3 linked regions of the Homo sapiens genome follow. The protein of the gene in region 1 interacts with the protein of each later gene in a biochemical or structural test. Each region holds a gene or a part of one and is shown in the gene's direction. Other genes may lie near its edges.

The links.
Region 2: the proteins of EIF3A (region 1) and BZW2 form a complex in vitro, tested with the Homo sapiens proteins (one study listed by BioGRID).
Region 3: the proteins of EIF3A (region 1) and PAIP1 form a complex in vitro, tested with the Homo sapiens proteins (one study listed by BioGRID).

Annotation. Positions count from the first base shown.
Region 1 is NC_000010.11:119,035,812-119,042,849, reverse strand, and holds part of EIF3A (eukaryotic translation initiation factor 3 subunit A), read left to right. Parts: intron 1-77; coding exon 78-856; intron 857-4,410; coding exon 4,411-4,612; intron 4,613-5,540; coding exon 5,541-5,731; intron 5,732-6,581; coding exon 6,582-6,811; 3' UTR 6,812-7,038. UniProt on the Homo sapiens protein: RNA-binding component of the eukaryotic translation initiation factor 3 (eIF-3) complex, which is required for several steps in the initiation of protein synthesis.
Region 2 is NC_000007.14:16,684,143-16,691,180, forward strand, and holds part of BZW2 (eIF5-mimic protein 1), read left to right. Parts: intron 1-1,762; coding exon 1,763-1,898; intron 1,899-5,654; coding exon 5,655-5,764; intron 5,765-7,038. UniProt on the Homo sapiens protein: Translation initiation regulator which represses non-AUG initiated translation and repeat-associated non-AUG (RAN) initiated translation by acting as a competitive inhibitor of eukaryotic translation initiation factor 5 (EIF5) function.
Region 3 is NC_000005.10:43,540,078-43,547,115, reverse strand, and holds part of PAIP1 (polyadenylate-binding protein-interacting protein 1), read left to right. Parts: intron 1-3,999; coding exon 4,000-4,112; intron 4,113-7,038. UniProt on the Homo sapiens protein: Acts as a coactivator in the regulation of translation initiation of poly(A)-containing mRNAs. Its stimulatory activity on translation is mediated via its action on PABPC1. Competes with PAIP2 for binding to PABPC1.

The DNA of each region.
Region 1 (7,038 bases):
ATGTGAAAAAAAAAATCCCCAAAGGATCATATGCTTTTTTATTTTATATATTTTTAATTGTTCTTGTTGCTGTGTAGGGAGTGGAGACGTGGAGAAGGGCGAGATGAGGACAGGTCTCATAGAAGAGATGAAGAGCGGCCCCGGCGTCTGGGGGATGATGAAGATAGAGAGCCCTCTCTTAGACCAGACGATGATCGGGTTCCCCGGCGTGGCATGGATGATGACAGAGGCCCTAGACGTGGTCCTGAGGAAGATAGGTTCTCTCGTCGTGGGGCAGACGATGACCGGCCTTCCTGGCGTAACACAGATGATGACAGGCCTCCCAGACGAATTGCCGATGAAGACAGGGGAAACTGGCGTCATGCGGATGATGACAGACCACCTAGACGAGGACTGGATGAGGACAGAGGAAGCTGGCGAACAGCTGATGAGGACAGAGGACCAAGACGTGGGATGGATGATGACCGGGGGCCGAGGCGAGGAGGCGCTGATGATGAGCGATCATCCTGGCGTAATGCTGATGATGACCGGGGTCCCAGGCGAGGGTTGGATGATGATCGGGGTCCCAGGCGAGGCATGGATGATGACCGGGGTCCCAGGCGAGGCATGGATGATGACCGGGGTCCCAGGCGAGGCATGGATGATGACCGGGGTCCCAGGCGAGGGTTGGATGATGATCGAGGACCTTGGAGGAACGCCGATGATGACAGAATTCCCAGGCGTGGTGCAGAGGATGACAGGGGCCCTTGGAGAAACATGGATGATGATCGCCTTTCAAGACGTGCTGATGATGATCGGTTTCCCAGACGGGGTGATGACTCAAGACCTGGTCCTTGGAGACCATTAGTCAAGCCAGGTAAAATTCTATTTCCTAGAATATGCTTAAGTGTTCACCTGTAAAAGTGAAATTCTGATGGATAAATATCAGGGCTGTATTGTTATTTTCCAGATAAACTGGTCTTTCATCTTTCCTTCAGTATCATTTGCAGTGACTTCGCTGTCAAAAGTTTGCCTTCAGAATACCACCATCCAAAACATAAATAACCCAACCCCTCTCTTCTTTAGTGATGTGCTCTTTGTTTTCCTTCTGCTTCGATGACTGCTTCTTTGAAGGCTCTTCCTGTACTCATGCTTTCAGTATTGGTGTATTTTTCAGGTTTTACTGGGAACCAGCCTCCTTTTAAAAATAAATAATTGAAACCAAAATGTACTTTATATATTTATTTTTGCCAACTGAGAGATTATGCAAGGAGGAACTCATTTTACTTTACTTTTTTTGAGACAGGGTCTTGCTCTGTTGCACAGGCTGGAATGCAGTGGTGCAGTCATGGCTCACTGCAACCTTGACCTCCCGGACCCTAGGGAGCCTCCCACTTCAGCCTTCTGAGTAGCTAGGACTACAGGCGCATGCCACCACACCCTGCTAATATTTTATTTTTTGGAGAGACGGGGTTTCGCTATGTTGCCCAGGCTGGTCTCAAACTCCTGGGCCCAAGTTATCCTTCTGCCTCTCCCTCCCAAAGTGAAGTGCTGGGATAACGGGTGTGAGGCGCTGCGCCCAGCCTCATTTTTTTTCTTAGTCCTGGGCCTGCTTATTGTTTCACACTTTATTATTCGTGAGCAGTTGTATACATGTTTGTGACATGCGTCTATTACCATTTTTTTTCTTTTTGAGGTGGAGTCTTGCTCTGTCTCCCAGGCTGGAGTGCAGTGGTATGATCTCAGCTCACTGCAACCTCTGCCTCCCAGGTTCAAGCAATTCTCCTGCCTCAGCTTCCCAAGTAGCTGGGACTACAGGCACATGCCACCATGCATGGCTAATTTTTTTTTTTTTTTTTTTTTTTGGAGACGGAGTCTCGCTCTGTCATCTGGCTGGAGTGCAGTGGCGCGATCTCCCCTCACTGCAAGTTCTGCCTCCCAGGTTCATGCCCTTCTCCTGCCTCAGCCTCCTGAGTAGCTGGGACAACAGGTGCCTACCACTATGCCTGGCTAATTTTTTGTATTTTTAGTAGAGATGGGGTTTCACCATGGTAGCCAGGATGGTCTCGATCTCCTGACCTCTTGATCCGCCTGCCTCAGCCTCCCAAAGTGCTGGGATTACAGGCATGAGCCACCACGCCCGGCCATTTTTTTGTATTTTTAATAGAGATGGGGTTTCACCATGTTGGCCAGGCTGCTCTCGAACTCCTGACCTCAAGTGATCCACCCACCTCGGCCTCCCAAAGTGCTAGGATTACAGGCGTGAGCCACTGCCCCGGCCAGTTTTCTCTAGGTAATTTCTGCGTACTGCACACAGGTGACAGCTGCTTACTGCATATAGCACATCTCCACTTGGTAGTCTTACTGAATGTCTAACACAGCCTATCCAAAACTGGACTCATTACCATCACATACACGTGCACTTGTTCACGCCCACCCATCCCTCTGATTCTCTTCAGGGGCATCACTGTCCATCTAACTGTCTGAGCTAGGATTCTGGGAGTTGTTTTGTCTCTGTTTCATCCTTTATGTTAAATCTTTAGTTCAGTTCTGCCTTTTTGATGTTCCTGAAATCCACCCTCCTCTCCATTCCCATTGCTTGTACTTGGTCCTGGGTCAGCATCATTTTCCTCACCCGCTAACTGGTTTTTGCTGCCTCTCTTACTCCCAGTTTTAATTTTGGGTGTCAGGGAAATAACCAGAGCAGTTGTTGTAAGTGCAGATCTAAGTGAGCTGCTTCCTTGCTTTCCCCAGTTGTTTCTGTTGCCTACTTCGTCTCTTCTAGTCTCACTTCATTCTGCTGTTCGGCTGTTACCTTGTGTAAGACATTTAATTTTTCTTTTCCTCATGTTAAATGGGGTAACAGTATAGCAGATTCTTACTAATTTGCTAATTATATTTTATACAGTTGCCATGAATACTGAACTCATGTTCCTAGGGTAAATACAAGGTTAGGTTCTTGTAAGCTTCTAGTCATGATATTTTTGTCAACCAATCAATACATAAAATGTCTTTTATGTGTTTGTGTTTAAAGACTCCCTATTTCTGATATGTTGTTGATTCATTACCATTGAATTCATGGTCAACAGCATTATAACTCATTCATGAACAAAGCTTATCTAATACATGTATTTTCTCCTTAAGGCATATCATAGCCACCTTGTGCTTGGGGCCACTAAACAGCATTTGTTTTTTCTCTTTTTGAGGTGGGGCCTCACTGTCTCCCAGGCTGGAGTGCAGTGGCGTGATCTCAGATCACCGCAACCTCTGCCTCCTGGGCTCAAGAGATCCTACCACATCAGCCTCCTGAGTAGTAGACTATAGGTGCACACCACCAAGCCCAGCTAATTTTTGTATTTTTTTGTAGAGATGTGGTTTTGCCATGTTGCCCAGGCTGGTCTTGAACTCCTGGGCTCCAGGGATCCACCCTCCTCAGCCTCCCAAATTCCTGAGATTACAGGCATGAGCCACCACGCCTGGCCACTAGACAGCATTTTAGCACTACACTTGGAGGCCATTTTAAACAGTGAGGTCACCAGCAAATTTACATCTCTATATGTACTGTATATAAAATGTTCCTAGATTCATATATTCCATGCATAAGTGTGAGCCACTGTGCAGGGTTAAAGGATTTATTCATGATTAATGACTAGATAATGGGTGGCAAATGGTGGAGGACAGGAATATAAAAGGAAAGATTGTTTTTTGGATATGAAGGGCTTGAAAACGTTGCAAGGTATAAATACCTCAAAATTGGGACTCAGAGAAAACTCTTGAAGTTTCTGCTTAAATGAGTGATCTGTGTAACATCAGAACAGATACTATGCTGAAATCTGCGTGCAATAGGAAAAATTCTAAAATTTTCAGTGATACTTTTGTTTTATGGAACACTTAACACAGATCATTTAAGGTTTTTGGTATTTTTTTTTCTTTTCCTGTTTGTTTTTTGAGACAGTCTCATTCTGTCATCCAGGCTGGAGTACAGTGGCACTATCTTGGCTCACTGCAGCCTCTGCCTCCCAGGTTCAAGCAGTTCTCATGCCTCAGCCTCCTAAGTCAAGTAGCTAGGACTACAGGCGCACCACCACACCTGGCTAATTGTAGTTTTAGTAGCAACAGGGTTATTACCATGTTGGCCAGGCTGGTCTCGAATTCCTGACCTTAAGTGATCCACCTGGCTCGGTCTCCAAAAGTGCTGGGATTACAGGTGTGAGCCACCATGCCCGGCCCATTTTAAGTTTCTCATATAAGTTTAAGATACTGTTAATGATGTCTGTGCAGTGATGTACACAGCTTTAGTATTTTTTTAATCAGTGTCTTAAATTAGCATTTAGAATGATGATGAATTAATGCCAACGTCTATTCATGATTGCCAATCTGTTTCTTCTTTTAAAAATATTTTAAAAATGTTTTGCTTTTTCAAAAAAACAGGTGGATGGAGAGAGAAAGAAAAAGCCAGAGAGGAGAGCTGGGGTCCACCTCGAGAATCAAGGCCATCAGAAGAACGTGAATGGGACAGAGAAAAAGAAAGGGACAGAGATAATCAAGATCGGGAGGAGAATGACAAGGACCCTGAGAGAGAAAGGGACAGAGAGAGAGATGTGGATCGAGAGGATCGCTTCAGAAGACCTAGGTGTGATGCTCTAATTAAATTATTTGTAGAGGCCGGGCGCAGTGGCTCATGCCTGTAATCCCAGCACTTTGGGAGGGCGGATCACCTGAGTTCAGGAGTTCGAGAGCAGCCTGGCCAACATAGTGAAACCCCATCTCTACTAAAAAATACAAAATTAGCCGGGCGTGGTGGCGCATGCCTGTAATCCCAGCTACTCAGGAGGCTGAGGCAGGAGAATTGCTTGAACCCGGGAGGCAGAGGTTGTGGTGAGCCGAGATAGCGCCATTGCACTCCAGCCTGGGCAACAAGAGCAAAACTCCGTCTCAAAAAAAAAAAAAAAAAAAAAAAAAATTCCCTCTTAAAGTAAGAAAATGGAGGCCCAAACTTCGTGGCTGTCCAAAGGCTGTGTGACCCGTTGGGCATTGGAACCAGTCCAGCCATCTTTGTCAGTCCGTTGCTTTTACCCCTGTGGTTTAGGGCAGTCAGTTTTCTTGCCCTTAAATTATCAAAAGCCCTTTGATTTTATTAGTAGTAGAAGTTCTAGCTTGTTCCCGCTGCCAAAGTGTCCTTGTACTGACAAATGTAGACCAGCAGTGTTCGATGCAATTTTCTTCAAGGAAGAAAATGTGTCTGCTGGCCAGTATGGTAGTCAGCAGTCACATTTGGCAGCCAAGCACTTAGAATATATGGTTGATGGTCCTAAGGAAATATCTCCGTTTTACTTTAAATGTAAGTAACCACATATGGGTAGTGGCTAACGAGTGGGACGGCACAGATCTGGGTGTTCTCATTTGTTCTCCACGCCCCAGGCATCAGGTAAGGTCAGGTTATGAGTTTAAACTGTCTGTTATATTTGTAAACTCTAAGCCCCAGCTTGGACTGGATGTACTTATAATTATCCATTTGGTCTAACAGTAAGAACCTGACCTGTCATTGTAAATGGCTACAGGGATGAAGGTGGCTGGAGAAGAGGACCAGCTGAGGAATCTTCAAGCTGGAGAGACTCAAGTCGCCGGGACGATAGGGATAGGGATGACCGTCGCCGTGAGAGGGATGACCGGCGTGATCTAAGAGAAAGACGAGATCTAAGAGACGACAGGGACCGAAGAGGACCTCCACTCAGATCAGAACGTGAAGAAGGTATAGAGGTTACATACAACTGAAGTATTGGAGAACTGTCGTTTCTGGGGGGGGGGGGATTTGGGTTATTTAATTATATCATAAATTTGTATGAAGGCCAACAATAAGAGAGTTGATATTCTATTTAGAATTCATGATTTTCATACAGTTACTCAATGGTCATGTTGTAAAGTGCACTTATCTCTAAATTCAAAGTACAGTAGTAGACTAAATTGGATAGCAGGCAATATATATAAAGTTTACTTAATAAAAATGAAAAAAATTGTTATTTAAAAGCAGCTTCCTGGCAGATTAAGCACAAAGTAGAAACATTTTCTCTGAAATTGTAACAGAAGTTTATTCTGTTTTAAAATATATGTATTTTTCATTTTTAAAATCCTCATTTTTCTCTTGGTTTTTAAAAATTAATTTTCCATATGTCTTGACATCCTGTTATGAGAGAATTTTTCTCTCATAGCCATAACTTTAAAAACTCCTGTATTTTGTATGGTTAATTTGCTGTTAAAATTCTTCAAGAGCCAAAAATCCTTTCAGTTATAAAATTTTCATTCAGCCAGATTTTTGCCACCTTGTCTTACGGGTTTATACTAACTGTAGTCCTTCCCAGGCTAGTGGTTTCTGCCTGTTTTCAGATTTTGAGTTTTATCTGTACATTTGTATGTTAAAGATTGTCAGAAATTGTATGAGCTTTCATTATGATTTCTGTATTTAACAATACAGAATTTAACAGAATTTCTGTATTTAACAATGATTTCTGTATTTAACAATCTTTAGTACAGGAATTTTGAGTAATTTGAGCCAATAGAATATAGTACTAACTTAATTTTTTTTTTTTAATTAAACTTTTTAGTAAGTTCTTGGAGACGTGCTGATGACAGGAAAGATGACCGGGTGGAAGAGCGGGACCCTCCTCGTCGAGTTCCTCCCCCAGCTCTTTCAAGAGACCGAGAAAGAGACCGAGACCGAGAAAGAGAAGGTGAAAAAGAGAAGGCCTCATGGAGAGCTGAGAAAGATAGGGAATCTCTCCGTCGTACTAAAAATGAGACTGATGAAGATGGATGGACCACAGTACGACGTTAAGTCTCAAGATAATGGATTTAAACTGGTGTCTTAAATAGGTTTGATCACATTCAAGGATTATTATACTTGTGCTTCAACCAATCTAAATTGGATTCTTTAATGTTGTTTCACCATAACACAAAAAGCATGAACTTGTATTAATCCTATATAATAGATTGATCATGCACCATATCCACAGGAGGTTGGAAAAACCATGCCATTTTCTGGAATTTAAGGGTGTTGCATTA
Region 2 (7,038 bases), on another chromosome or scaffold:
TATACTTGTAGGCATAACTACATGTATTAATAAGGGAAAATGCCCATGACAAATTAAGTGGAAATGCGAGGTGCAAAGCAACCATTTGGTAGTAGTTTGACCTGGGGCAAATTACTTAATATCTTTGTACCTTAGTGTTCTTTTCTGTAATTGGAGATGGAGACTGTTGTAGGTATTAATACACATAAAGGGATCAGAAGAGTGTCTGGTCCACTCAACAAGTTTTAGCTATCATTAGCATATAATGCAGTAAAAAACAATATGTGTGTATACATGTAATTATGTTTTAATGTTGATTAATATAATTGAGCAATGTGGTTATTATTTTTATGATGATCTAATTTTTGTACCATTTCTATGTGATTAAGTATATTTTAAATGAATATGGTTATATGTGTGAGCTTAAAGAAGTGGTGTTAAAATTTTATTTTAGAGGCTAATTTTTATTATTCTCGTTTAAATGTTATTTATTTTTATAATGGAGGAAAAGGACAAATTGACATGAACTGTCTATATTTATGTTAGTTCTTTCATTCTTCCCCATTTCTGATGCTCCTTGGAACTTAAGCCTTTCAATCCCTCATTCCCTCACTCCCTGGCACTTACTTAGATGTTAACTTCTTTTTAATTTGTTGAGAATTTAATAGGTATAAATTGAGAGGCAAATGGACTGGTTTGTTTCCAGTTCTGCCACTTTCACATAATGTAAATAGTCTATAATATAATAATCCTTCAATTCTTGGGGAATAGTAAGTTAATATTTTCTTATCCCCTACACAGTTAGTGGAATAATCATGTCATCAGGGTGGAGACACTTAAGTCTCTATCAATGCCAGTGAATTTTGCATTGGCGCAAAATAATGGAAAATCAGCAAGGCCCCTGTGGTGATAGTGGCCCCTGAGGAATTTCCATGGCAAGCCTAATAACTGCTGAAATGGAGAAAGTAACAGTAGAATGTAGTCAAAGCACAAAGCAGAGGAGAGTCAGGAGAGAGAAGGGCATCCCACAGGGCTGACTACTCTTAGAATTTAATACAGGAAGTGGGTTTTTCGTTTTATTTGCTTTGAGCTTACATTCAAATTTTCTAGGGTTGCTACTTTTTTAGTTCCCTGCCTCTGGGGCAAGAGAATCTAAAAGTTTACCAAAAAAACATCAAGAACCTAGAAAACCCCTTTCTCCCTCAACAGTCTTGTTTTGAAGACTGTTGTATTCCGTGAGCTCAGAAAAGTATATATTAAATGTCAAAAGCTTAACTTCGACTCTTTCCTGTTTTTTTTTTTTGTTTGTGTGGGGCTTTTTTTTGTTTCTATGTTTTTGCCGTACAAATTCTATTCAGAGAAAATGGGTACATGTAGCAGGGGAAGAGGTAGTCGCCCAAGGAAGTGGAAAAACTTGAAAAACAATACATTTCAGAAAACATGTCCATCATGTATACTTAACTCTCTTGCATGCACATAGTCAAACATAAATCCATCTGTTTACATATCATCCAAATATCTCTTTTCCTTTCCATGAATGTTATCTACAGCTGTGAGTAAATTAACTGAGAAGAAAGGAACTCTGCCTGCTCAAGTCACTTTCCACAGCATCCAGTTTATCATGAAATGAATTACTATGCTTTGCATATGACCTTCTGTTTGTGTGCCACGTAGCCATGGATGTTCACAGTTTATCTTCCCACTTCAGTCCTTTGCTTCATAGACATGGTTCCTTTTTTTTTCTTTTTCTTTTTCTTTTTTTTTTTTTTTTTTTGACCCACAGCTTCTCCTCTTCCTTAAAGCCTTTTCCGAAACAGAGCAGACAAAGTTGGCGATGCTGTCGGGGATTCTGCTGGGCAATGGCACCCTGCCCGCCACCATCCTCACCAGTCTCTTCACCGACAGCTTAGTCAAAGAAGGTAACGAGGCTCCTGTTTTCTCGCCTGTCAGACAACAAAAGAAAAATAAAGTCACAGATAGTTAGAAAAATGCCAGTGGCTCTTTTTGGTGTCCTCTATTACTCATTCTTCATTTAAGAGAATATCTTTGTATGGGTGTATATTGCCTTTCAAATAATAAAAGGAGTGGACTTGTTAATTGTAGGAAGTTTGAAGGAAAAAATATGCACACCTGTACAAAGACATATTAAGAAAGACTAATAGCAAATTAAAATCTCATGGAAGACTTGATGCCTAGGTCAAATACCCCGAAATCGATCTGGTAATCTTTTTGCCCTTCGACACAAAATGGCAGCCTTTAACTTTCACCCCTATTATAAGAACAAAAACTGTTCCCCTCTCAAGGTCTAGAGAAACTGATGCTCAGATATTCATTTTGATTGCACTTTTTAAGATACTCATTGTCTCAGTTTTAGAAAACAATTTTAAGTCTGCTGCATTAGAAGGAGTCTTGTTTTAATTTTAAGGCATTAAGGGTTGGATAGGCATGCATACCATGGTTTGGTTATAGAATAAAATAAAAGTCGGCTGTTTACTTGTAGGAGGATAATGATAGTCAAATTACAATGCAACACAAAACAGTTATTTTTCCTTAAAAATAAATTAAAAGAGCTTTTGTGAGAACATCTGTTTCTTCTGAGAACTTAAAGTTTTCCTCCTACATATATGAAGTCCTAGCTTCATTCATGCCTATAGTGAAAGAAAGGAGTCATAGTTTTCTTGTAGCTAAGGAAAGAATAGTAAATTGAGAGTCAATTGGTCTTATTCAGAGACTCTTCCTAGTTTTTAGCTTAAAATCACTCAGATTTATGACAATTCAGACTCTGTAATTGTTAGATGTTATTAGTATTATGACATTTTAAAGTATTTCCCTGAAGAAAATTCACAATACAACACACATCTTATTTTTGCTATTAGCCATTTTGCACACAGAAAGTCAACATAGAATATAAATGTTAATCATTAATTATTTTAAATTATCCTAGCCAACATAACAGAAAATAATTGCCTTTCTAGTTTTTTTAAAAACCTAAGTGATGTCTGTAACTTCCTTTGTAATATATCCAAAAATTACGTTATTAGGTGGATAGATATCTGATAAAGCAAATACGGCAAAATATTAGTTATAGAAACTAGATGGTGGGCATGTGAATGTTCATTGTTCAATTTGTTCAACTTTTCTGTATGTCTGGAAATTATTGTAGTAAAATGTTTGGGGGGTGGTGAGGAGAAAAATAACTTTGCTATGGAAGTAACATAGTACCTCTGTTATATGGCTTTTCCTTAAACTCTGCCATCTTTTACAAACTAGAGGTTTAAACCCTTGCTTCCTAATTGGAAAAGGATTAAGAAAATGCTGGGTATGGTAACTCATGCCTGTAATCCTAACACTTTGGGAAGCTGAGGTAAAAAAATTGCTTGAGGCCAGGAGTTTGAGACCAGTCTGGGAAACAAAGCAAGACTCTCTTCTCTACAAAAAAAAATTTAAAAACTAGCCAGGTGTGTTGGCACACCTGTACAATCCCAGCTGCTCAGGAGACTAAGGCAAGAGGATTGCTTGAGCCCAGGAGTTTGGGGCTACAGTGAGCTATAATCACATCATCTTACTACAGCCTGGGCAACAGAGAAAGACTATCTAAAATAAAAAAAAAGAAATAAAGAAAATGGTTAAGAAATTAATCATTTTCCCCAGCTCATCCAATAAATGACCAAGGGAGATGGGATTATCCTACTCAGAGGAGTAACTATAAAGAAAGTTAAATCTCAGTTTTAGGCTCCTAGTTTCAAGCGTAGTTTTTCTTTACGATACAGATTACAGCCTAGTGTTAATTTATATTAAATTTTATATTGGTTTTATGAGCTAATGATAATGCTAAAAATTCATCTTAAGTTGTTTAACATGAACTTTCAGTTAAGGTGTAATGCATGTTTTGTTGTTATAGCCGTTTTTGTTTTTTTTTTAACTTAGTTTCTTTGCTTATTCAAGGGAAGAAAATCAGGTTTAGTTGGTGTCTATATGAATGATAGACCAATTAAATGCTTTTACTTTCCAGTTGCTGGAAGACCTGGGTCAAATTGGTATATAAGGACATGGATTTCTTATGTAACAATAAATAGAAAATTAGGACAGACCTCAGGCTGAACAGCAGTATCATTCAGGACTTAAGTATTTTTCTCCTGTTATCATTCATAGCATTAACTTCATCCCAAGGATGGTGCCCCCTCTAGTTGTTATAAGATGCCTGCTGACACAGTTATGGCATATTCTTCCTGGTTCAGGTTCAGTGGAAGAACACTTCTCCTGAACAGAGGATAATTTATCTTTCCTTCAGCTGATTGGCTGACACAGGCTGCATGACTAGTGCAGGTCCAGTAGCAATTGCCAGGGGCGTGCCTTGGGCAGATGAGCTTAAGCGAGGTCACTAAATTAATCATCAGAAAGGGGTGGTACCAGGACTTAGACTAATCAGTAGTCACCTGGACTGGATAAAAGGGGACCTCTTTTAGGAAGGAGGTAAAGAGAATAGAGGCTGCTTAGGCCACATTATCATTAGCTCATAACAATAGTAGAACCTTCAGTTTAGAAAAATCAGTTAAATGTTTCAGTTACATCTTAACTCTTCATTAAATAACCGCAACATAAATTTAGAAATTTGAAGTGTTCATAGAACTGTCTTCTTGTTATCTGATTATTTCTATTTGGAAATAAGTGGTAATGTAAATGTGGACATGTGATTAAATGGTTTCCTGATTTAACATAACTAGCTTAATAATGATTTTTTTTTAAATCCAGAAGAGTTTAACTTGAAACAGCCTTGGTATTTTTATAGCTTAACTCAAGAATATTTTAAAATGCTTTTTATGGCTGCGTGCAATGGCTCATGCCTGCAATCCCAGCAATTTGGGAGGCCAAGGCAGGTGGATCACCTGAGGTCAAGCGTTCAGGACTAGCCTGCCCAACATGGCGAAACCCTGTCTCTACTAAAAATACAAAAATTAGCTGGGTGTGGTGGTGCATGCCTGTAATCCCAGCTACTTGGGAGGCTGAGGCAGGAGAATCACTTGAACCCAGGAGGTGAAGATTGCAGTGAGCCGAGATCGTGCTACTTCACTCCAGCCTGGGCGACAGAGTGAGACTCCATCCCCCCAAAAATAAAAATAAAAATAAATAAATAAAATGCTTTTTATAAAAAGCAAAACTAAGGTAAATGATATGTGTTCATCTATTCGTAGCAATACTTATTGTATCTATCACTATCAGTGTTCTTGTACTGGCATCCTTTATTAGCAAATTACTTGATAAAGGTGACATTACAGTTTTGTGTCTCCTAATTTACTTTCTTGTGCCTCAAGATCACTGTTATAAAGATGAAATACATATGAACCAGAGGGTGAAATAAAGGCAATAACACCAAAGATACTGGGTGTGAAATATGTTTTTGACCAAGGTAAAATAAAATAAACTTGCAGTTAGACCAGGTTGGATTCAAGGAGTCCAAATTTGAAAAATATTTTAATTTATTTTCCTTTTCCTGAAAATGTTCTAGTTTGAGTAATGAGAAGAGGAGAATTTGCCTAGAGGTCTATTGACTTTTCATTTGTACCAAAATTAGTCTTTTAGTTATTTACACATTTCAGGAAACCTGGTTGCTTTGCACACCATCACAATTGGTTTTGCTCGTAAAAGGAATGAAATTCTCTTTTGTTTTTCAACAGGCATTGCGGCCTCATTTGCTGTCAAGCTTTTCAAAGCATGGATGGCAGAAAAAGATGCCAACTCTGTTACCTCGTCTTTGAGAAAAGCCAACTTAGACAAGAGGCTGCTTGTAAGTGTTTTCTGGTTAAAGAGTTGTATGTATGATGCCTTTCTTGGAGCTTAAGCAATGCCTGCAATGTAGTATATGAGTAAGATCCCTGGATCTGTGTTGACTTGGAGCACTGTTCCTTTTATTTCTGTGTAATTGGTAGTAGAAGCTAATTTCATTTTAATCTTTATTTTGTGAACAAATGGCACAATAAAATTAAAGAATTGTGAAGAATATAGACTTCCAAATTTGTAAGTTTGTTGACATAGTATTAACATTTCATCAGAATTAAGACTTTGTTTTATAGCCATAACTTTTTTACTTTTTTTTTTTTTGAGACAGAGTCTGGCTCTGTCACCCAGGCTGGAGTGCAATGGCACAATCTCGCTCACTGCAACCTCTGCCTCCGGAGTTCAAACAATTCTCCTGCCTCAGCCTCCCGAGTAGGTGGGATTACAGGTGCTCTCCACCACACCCAGCTAATTTTTGGATTTTTTTTAATAGAGACGGGGTTTCACCATGTTGGCCAGGTTAGTCTTGAACTCCTGACCTCAAGTAATCCGCCCACCTCAGCCTCCCAAAGTGCTGGGATTATAGGCGTGAGCCACCACACTCAGCCTATAATCATAACTTTCTAGACATTTTAAGGTTTTAATATGATAAAAATTTCATCAATCTCACTTAATCAAATACTTGTGATGTCTGTCTTGAGTAGCAGTCAGACTGTGCTAATCTCAAATGTGTGTTAAATAGTTTGCTAACAAAATAAAAGTTTAAACAAGATTTCCCTGGAAATACTTAAGCTGTTGCAGAAATTAAACAAGTTAATTGTGTCACAATTGCTTGATTATATTTTTATTTCTCCATCTTTGTGTTTTTCTAAGAAAATCCAGAAAAATATTTTGTTCTTGTAATTTCTATCTGCTCCCTACAATTTCTTTCTTCTTGATGCAGCAGCTGTGAAATGCCAAGATTTCTCCAGGTGGAATTGCTTTTACAGTTCTAGGATGAAGTGTAAAAATAAGACACAGCGCTGCCATCTCTTCACCTGGCCTGTTCTCTGTTGTTCTCTTCCAATGTGTTTCAGTGTGCAAGGGTCCAGTCCCATGAGATAATTCTAAGACTATCTCTTTTCCTCAAGAACACATGAAAGTAATTTTAAATGTAAATACTTGCAATTTAAATCACTTAAGAATACTTTGTTTCTTGAAGTTTACCTTAAATAGATTTGTGTGTTTAAAGTTTTTAGATTATGGTAAAAAAGGTACAGAAGTCTAGATTCTAGTTCATAATAA
Region 3 (7,038 bases), on another chromosome or scaffold:
ACATTTAGTTTTTATCCCAGCATATTGGTCATTAACATATTAACGCTTTTTTTTTTTTTTTTTTTTTTTTTTTGATATGGAGTCTTGCCCTGTCTCCCAGGCTGGAGTGCAGTGGCGCAGTCTCAGCTCCCTGCGACCTCCGTCTCCCGGGTTCAAGCGATTCTCCTGCGTCAGTCTCCCAGGTAGCTGAGATTACAGGTGTGCACCACCATGCCCAGCTAATTTTTGTATTTTTGATAGAGACAGGGTTCCACCGTGTTGACCGGGCTGGTCTCGAACTCCTGACCGCAAGTGATCTGCTTGCCTTGGTCTCCCAAAATGCTGGGATTTTACAGACATGAGCCGCTGCACCTGGCCTCATTAATGCTATTTTAAAAGTGAAAAATACAGTAGACAACACTGGCTTAACACAAAATTTCTTAGTCAGTGTGAGACTGGTCAAAAAAAATGGGCCATGATCAGAAATGTAAACTTTAGGTTCTTTAAGTCACTGTTACAAGAGCAACTCAAATTTGGAATATATGGAAGGGAGATTATAATGCAAATTAATGATTATTTTCTATCCTAATGTTTCATTTGGCTGCTTTTCCAAGTTATTCTGGATGGTTACTGGACCCCAAGATTACCTAGCCAACTGTCAGTTTTGAGGAAGTACCTGAGATGTTAGGAAGACAGAACTGCACTGTTTGTCCTCATTTCTGCTTTCTGCTGATAAATGGATTGAAAAGGAATATGAGATAAGAAAATGAAACAAATGTATTTATTTCTTGTTGCCTTTCTGGCTTCCTCCACTATTTAGTTTCAGTTATTCAGTAGGCTGCGTAATTATACTTATTCAGGGCTGGACAAAGGGTCAGTAACCTGATAAGCGTCAACTATTTCTCTGATTGTCAAATATGTAGTCAGTATGTTTAATGTTTTAATATTCTATGATCAATGATGCATAGGTTTATCAATAGCTGCTAAGTTTCATTGAGGTAATTTATGGAAATTTACTCATAGCAACTAACAAACGAGGAAGTATTACAAAAGATGACAGATTAGGCCAGGCGCAGTGGCTCATGTCTGTAATCCCAGCACTTTGGGAGGCCGAGGCGGGTGGATCACCTGAGGTCAGGAGTTCAAGACCAGCCTGACCAACATGGAGAAACCCTGTCTCTACTAAAAAAAAATACAAAATTAGCTGGGCTTGGTGGTGCATGCCTGTGATCCCAGCTACTCGGGAGGCTGAGGCAGGAGAATCGCTTGAACCCGGGAGGCGGAGGTTGCAGTGAGCCGAGATTGCGCCACTGCACTCCAGCTTGGGCAACGAGCGAAACTCTGAATCAAAAAAAAAAAAAATGACAGATTAAATACACATTCAACTCTGATATCTCCCAAACACCACTAAAATGATGCTATGGGGATTTTTAAAAGGCGGAAGCTCATAGGGACAGAGAAGAGGAAAAGAAAAGCACTAGTTTTGAAGACTAGAAAGCAGGTGGGTGAGTGGTACCTGATTTGGCAGATCTAACGTTGAATTCCAAGCCAGTGGTGGTAAAGCTGAGAATCACCATGACTTACAGTGCAAAACCTAAAAGGTTCTAAAATAAGGATGGAATGAGGCTAAAAGGATTGCTTGAGAATCTAAAAAGTTAGACCATCCAGATCTTTTTACACTGAACAGCCGGTTTGAAATTTTGTTGTAACCCTTCTTATGAAATTAACAAAGGACGTACTCTGTCAAAAAGAGGAGTTATGCCACGGATGAAGACATGGGAACCAGGAAAAGGAACTCTACAGGAGAGACTAAGTGAACTGTCCAGATGATGGTTCAAAGGAGATCTCAAAACAATAGCAGCATGCATAGTAGGTCTGAAGCAGCCAGGCTTCACTGGACTAGGTCAGAAGGCTCCAGGAAAGACTTCCGTAATAAGATGAGCACACATGCTGTAAGACATAAGAAGAAATTTACAGAGTAGTGAGTTTAGGGATAAATCAATGAGAAGAATATAAAAGTGTAGTAAAAACTGAATCTAGGGAAGACAAAGTTGTGCAAAAGTAAAAGCAGTGTAATACATGGTTCAGCTATAAATGAAAACACAGCAAATGAATAAAATCATAACCATACTGTGATAGGAGGAAATAGTAGAGTGGGGTGAAATTAAGCAGGGTGAAAGCTAAAAGCTCATCTTCCATGATGGGAAACTGTAAGTTGAGTATCCCGTATCTGAAATGCTTGAGATTTCAAGCATTTCAGATGGATTTTTTCAGATTTAGCATATCCAGTATATAATGAGACACCTCAGGGAGGGTACCTAAGTATATTACAGCTGAAGGGGGTTGACAGGGTCTTTTTTCCTTTGGGGATGCTGAATAAATTATGTGTTGTACACCTGTGTTTTGACTGACCTGTCACATGAGGTCAGGTGTGGAATTTTCCACTTTTGGCATTATGTGGACACTCATATTTTCTGTTTTTGGAGGATTTTAGATTTTTGGACAGGGATGCTCAAGTTGCAGTAAGAAATAACATCTAAACTGAAAAATTACGTAGTGCGGAGATATGGGGATTAAAACATTTTTGGCTGAAGAAGTCAAAAGTGGTTGTCTTTGGGAGTAAAACCGGGATGTAAGTAGGAAACTGTTGAATGACAAGCCTTATAGAACTTGTCTTTAAATCGTGTTATAACACTAAAAAGAAGCTAAAGGAAAACATGCAGTGCCAATAATGGGAAAAATGTAAGGGTGAACCAAGTCTTGGGTACCAGCTAAACATACATGATGTCAGGAGAAATCACTCTTTCTCCCTTAATGTGACATATACTGGCCCCATGTGAGCAAGGAAATAATTAGAAATAAAAGTTAGTAAGTAGACCCAACATATAGAGTCAGAGGGGTAGCAGGACATTTGTTAGATCTAGATTCTATGTTCAATTACATTTGTGGCCAAGTCCCTTAGCTTTTTTTTTTTTTTTTTTTTTTTTTTTAAAAAGATGGGGGCTTTGTTTTGTCACCCAGACTAGAGTGCAGTGGCGTGACCACAGCTCACTGCAGCCTTGAACTCCTACACTCAAGTGATCCTTCCACCTCAGCCTCCAGAGTAGCTGGGACTACGGTGCATGCTACCGTGCCCAGCTAATTTTAAAATTTTTTTATAGAGATGGTGGTCACACTGTGTTGACTAGGCTGGTCTTGAACTCATGGCCTCAAGCGATCCTCTGGCCTTGGCCTTCCAGAGTACTAGGAATACAGGCATGAGCCACTGTGCCCGACTTCTTAACCTTTTAATGTGTGTTTTCTTACCTAATATTAGATGGTAAACTATGTTCTCTACTATTCTTTAGAAATTGCAATTAAAGTTAAACTTGCTGAACACTGCTTCAGTTATATCAACAATCTTTGATGTGTAGTGTTTTCTTACTTTTTTTTTTTTCTGTTTTTAAGTAGCTTAGCTGTTTTCATTTCCCCTTTACCCAATCATTCTTGGAGTGTTTAAGTGTTAGTTGCTTGTGCCAGTTACCATTAATCACCTCTTTAAAGTCTAACTGAAGCTCAGGGAGGTTTACTGATGTCCAAAGTCATGAAGCAAAATGCCAGGGAATCTTGTCCTGGACTGCCAAACACTAAAAAGTCTGTGCTTTCCTGCCCCAAGAAGCCCCACTGGTCAACAGTTTGGCAGTATTCTCATTCATAATTGTCACTGTGCAGTTGAGGACATGTACAGGTTTTCTGCAAAAAATGGGTTAGCATCAGGAGACATTATCTCTTCGCTTTCTGGTAGCCTCAGGTAACTGATGGGTTTTTTCTTTTTTTTTTTTTTTTTGTACTTATTGTGGTTCTTGCTGTAAGGTTGGGAGGGAAAGTGAATTTAATTTCCTTAAGCCTAACAATGACAAAAGACTTGTATATATGGTCAGTTTGGGGAGTCAATTTTTTCTTCTTTAGAATGTTGCTGTTAAGTATTTACATTAATAATGATGTACCTATGTCATATAACACTTTTCTTCTTTTTAAAAGGCCACATCTATCCCAAATTTCTCTTATATGGGAGCTCGCCTGTGTAATTACCTGTCCCATCATCTGACAATTAGCCCACAGAGTGGCAACTTCCGCCAATTGCTACTTCAAAGGTCAGTGTAAATGTGAAATTAAAGGAAAACTACTTCTAAATATACTAGAATTTGACCATTCCTCAGACCATATATTATAAAAAGCTGCAGGAAAGAATAGGGCAGCCTATTCTTATGTGCATTATATTTGAAGTTTATAGTTCAGTATACCAGTCTTTTTTCTGTAATGGTCTGTGAATTTGGTTTTGTGTTTAGAAAGATCTTTCCTTTTCCAAGATCTTAAAAATAAACACTTATGTAATTCTTATTACTTTGGTAGCTTTGGTTTGAATAAGGATCTAATTTTATTTAGATTAGAATAAAAGTGAATAATCCATTTTTCCTTATTGATTTGAATTGCCACTTTTATCACACTTGCATTATTTGGGTTTTGATTCTGGATTTTCATTCCATTTATCACTTATTCTGTTCCTTTTTATTACCATACAATTCATACAATAGCTATTAAAAAGCTTTTTTTTTTTTTTTTTGAGATGGAGTCTCACTTTGTCTCCCAGGCTGGAGTGCAGCGGCACGCTCTTGGCTCACTGCAACCTCTGCCTCCCACAGGTTCAAGTGATTTTCCTGCCTCAGCCTACCCAGTAGCTGGGACTACAGGCACCCGCCACCATGCCCGGCTAATTTTTGTATTTTTAGTAGAGACGGGTTTCACCATGTTGGCTAGGCTGGTCTCAAACTCCTGATCTCATGTGATCCACCCACCTCAGCCTCCCAAAGTGCTGGGATTACAGGCATGAGCCACCCTGCACTGCCAAAAGCTATCATTTTTAAAAATATCTTAGGGTAATTAGTTTTTTGTTCTTTTGTGGGATTTTTTTTTTTTTTTCCGAGACCGAGTCTTGCTCTGTCACCCAGGCTGGAGTGCAGTGGCTCAGTCTTGGCTCACTGCAACCTCTACCTCTGAGGCTCAAGCGATTCTCGTGCCTCAGCCTCCCCAGTAGCTGGGATGATGGGTGCGTACCACCATGCCCAGCTAATTTTTGTATTTTTAGTAGAGATGGGGTTCACCATGTTGGCCAGGCTGGTCTCGAACTCCTGACCTCAAGTGATCCGCCCACCTCAGCCTCCCAAAGTGCTGGGATTACAGGCGTGAGCCACCACGCCCAGCCTGTCAAATATTCTTTGCTATGCTTGTTTCGTCTAATGAACTTTAGAATCAGTGTTTGAAATTACACAAGTCTTGCTAGTATGTTAGATATTTTGGAGATAATACTCAATTTATAAGCTAATTTAGAGAAAACTAGTTTTCTTATAATTTGATGTCTTCAGTAACAAGGTTATCTTCAAGTTTATTATAGTTCGTCCATTAGTTTTTTAAGTGACTTTTAATGATTGCAAAGCATTCCATTGTGTGGTTAAACTGCAGTGGAACAGAATAAAGATTCTAGAAGTAGACCCCAGAGACCCTTGAAAATTCAAGCTTTTGATAAAAAGGATAAATTGTGCTGGTAGCATAACTGGATAGTCATTTGGGAAAAAAAGATGAGTTCCCATCTCACTCTCTGTGCTGAAATCCCAAATATGTCAGAGACTTATTAAAAGTGAAATGATAGGTGGGGCACAGTGGCTCATGCCTGTAATCCCAGTACTTTGGGAGGCTGAGGTGGGCGGCTCACGAGTTCAGGAGATTGAGGCCATCCTGGCTAACATGGTGAAACCTCATCTTTACTAAAATAACAAAAAAAAACCCTAAAAATACAAAAAAAAAAAAAAAAGCTGGGCGTGGTGGCGGGTACCTTTAGTCCCAGCTACTTGGGAGGCTGAGGCAGGAGAATGGCGTGAACCCGGGAGGCGGAGCTTGCAGTGAGCAGAGATCGCGCCACTGCACTCCAGCCTGGGTGACAGCCAGACTCCGTATCAAAAATAATAATAATAATGAAAATACTTGGAATAGCGCCAAATAGATATAGATACAGTTTGGAAAAATACAAATGTCAAAGTTATAAAAAGATATCTAACCATACTTATAATTAAAGAAACACAAATTATAGCTTCTGTAAAGATTCAGAGTGGGTACTTGTAGGCGGTAGGACGCCAGGAATGCTCACTCATATTTTTCAGTGCTTCTCACCCCCGGCTGTGCCTTAGAGTTACCTAGATACTTAAAGCCGAGATCCTGTCTGAACCCTTTGAAATTCTGGTGTAATTAGACGAGGTGGAGCTAGGACATGGTTTTTTAAAGCTTCCCAAGTGATTCTACTGTATAGCTATGATTGAGACCCACTCTTCTCATTGACTGTTACCCACCATATGTGCTTCTGTAGTACTGTAATCCTGTCAATAATAATGTAGAGAAATACTAGTGAGCTAACAAGTAAAAAGCAAAGCATAATTCTGCTACCTCTTTAAAAAATATATACATACTTTGAAAAAGATGGAACGGAAGTTACCTTCACAGCAGTTATCTCTTGTTTTTAGTAGTAGTGCAGGTGACTTTGTTCTTTATACTTTTTCTGTTTTAACCTTTCCAAAATAAACATACATTGCTTTTATAATTGAAAATCTTTAGCTTAAAAATTTGACTTTTCACCTAGTCAATTATGTAGGTATTTGTTTGCATGTACATAATCATATCCTAACGTACAGTCTGTCATAGCATTTTATGAAAAAAAAAGTTATTTCATCAACTCTTACCGACAAAGTTGTAACAGAAAAGCAGCCAACAGGTGTTTTTAAATAACTGATTTGGCATTAATTAACTGATCTCTTCCATTATTAACCAGAATGTACTATCTATAAATATCCCAACTTTTTTCTGATGAGGAATTTAATATGTACAAGATGATAACAAATATCTTACCACATTTGACTTAAACAGAAGATGTTGCTCAGTTAATATACCTCGTAAACATTGGAATTGGCCACGTAAGCACAGTAAGCTGTGCTGGGGTTTCGTGGTTGGCAAACTGACCCAGAGTCAATTACT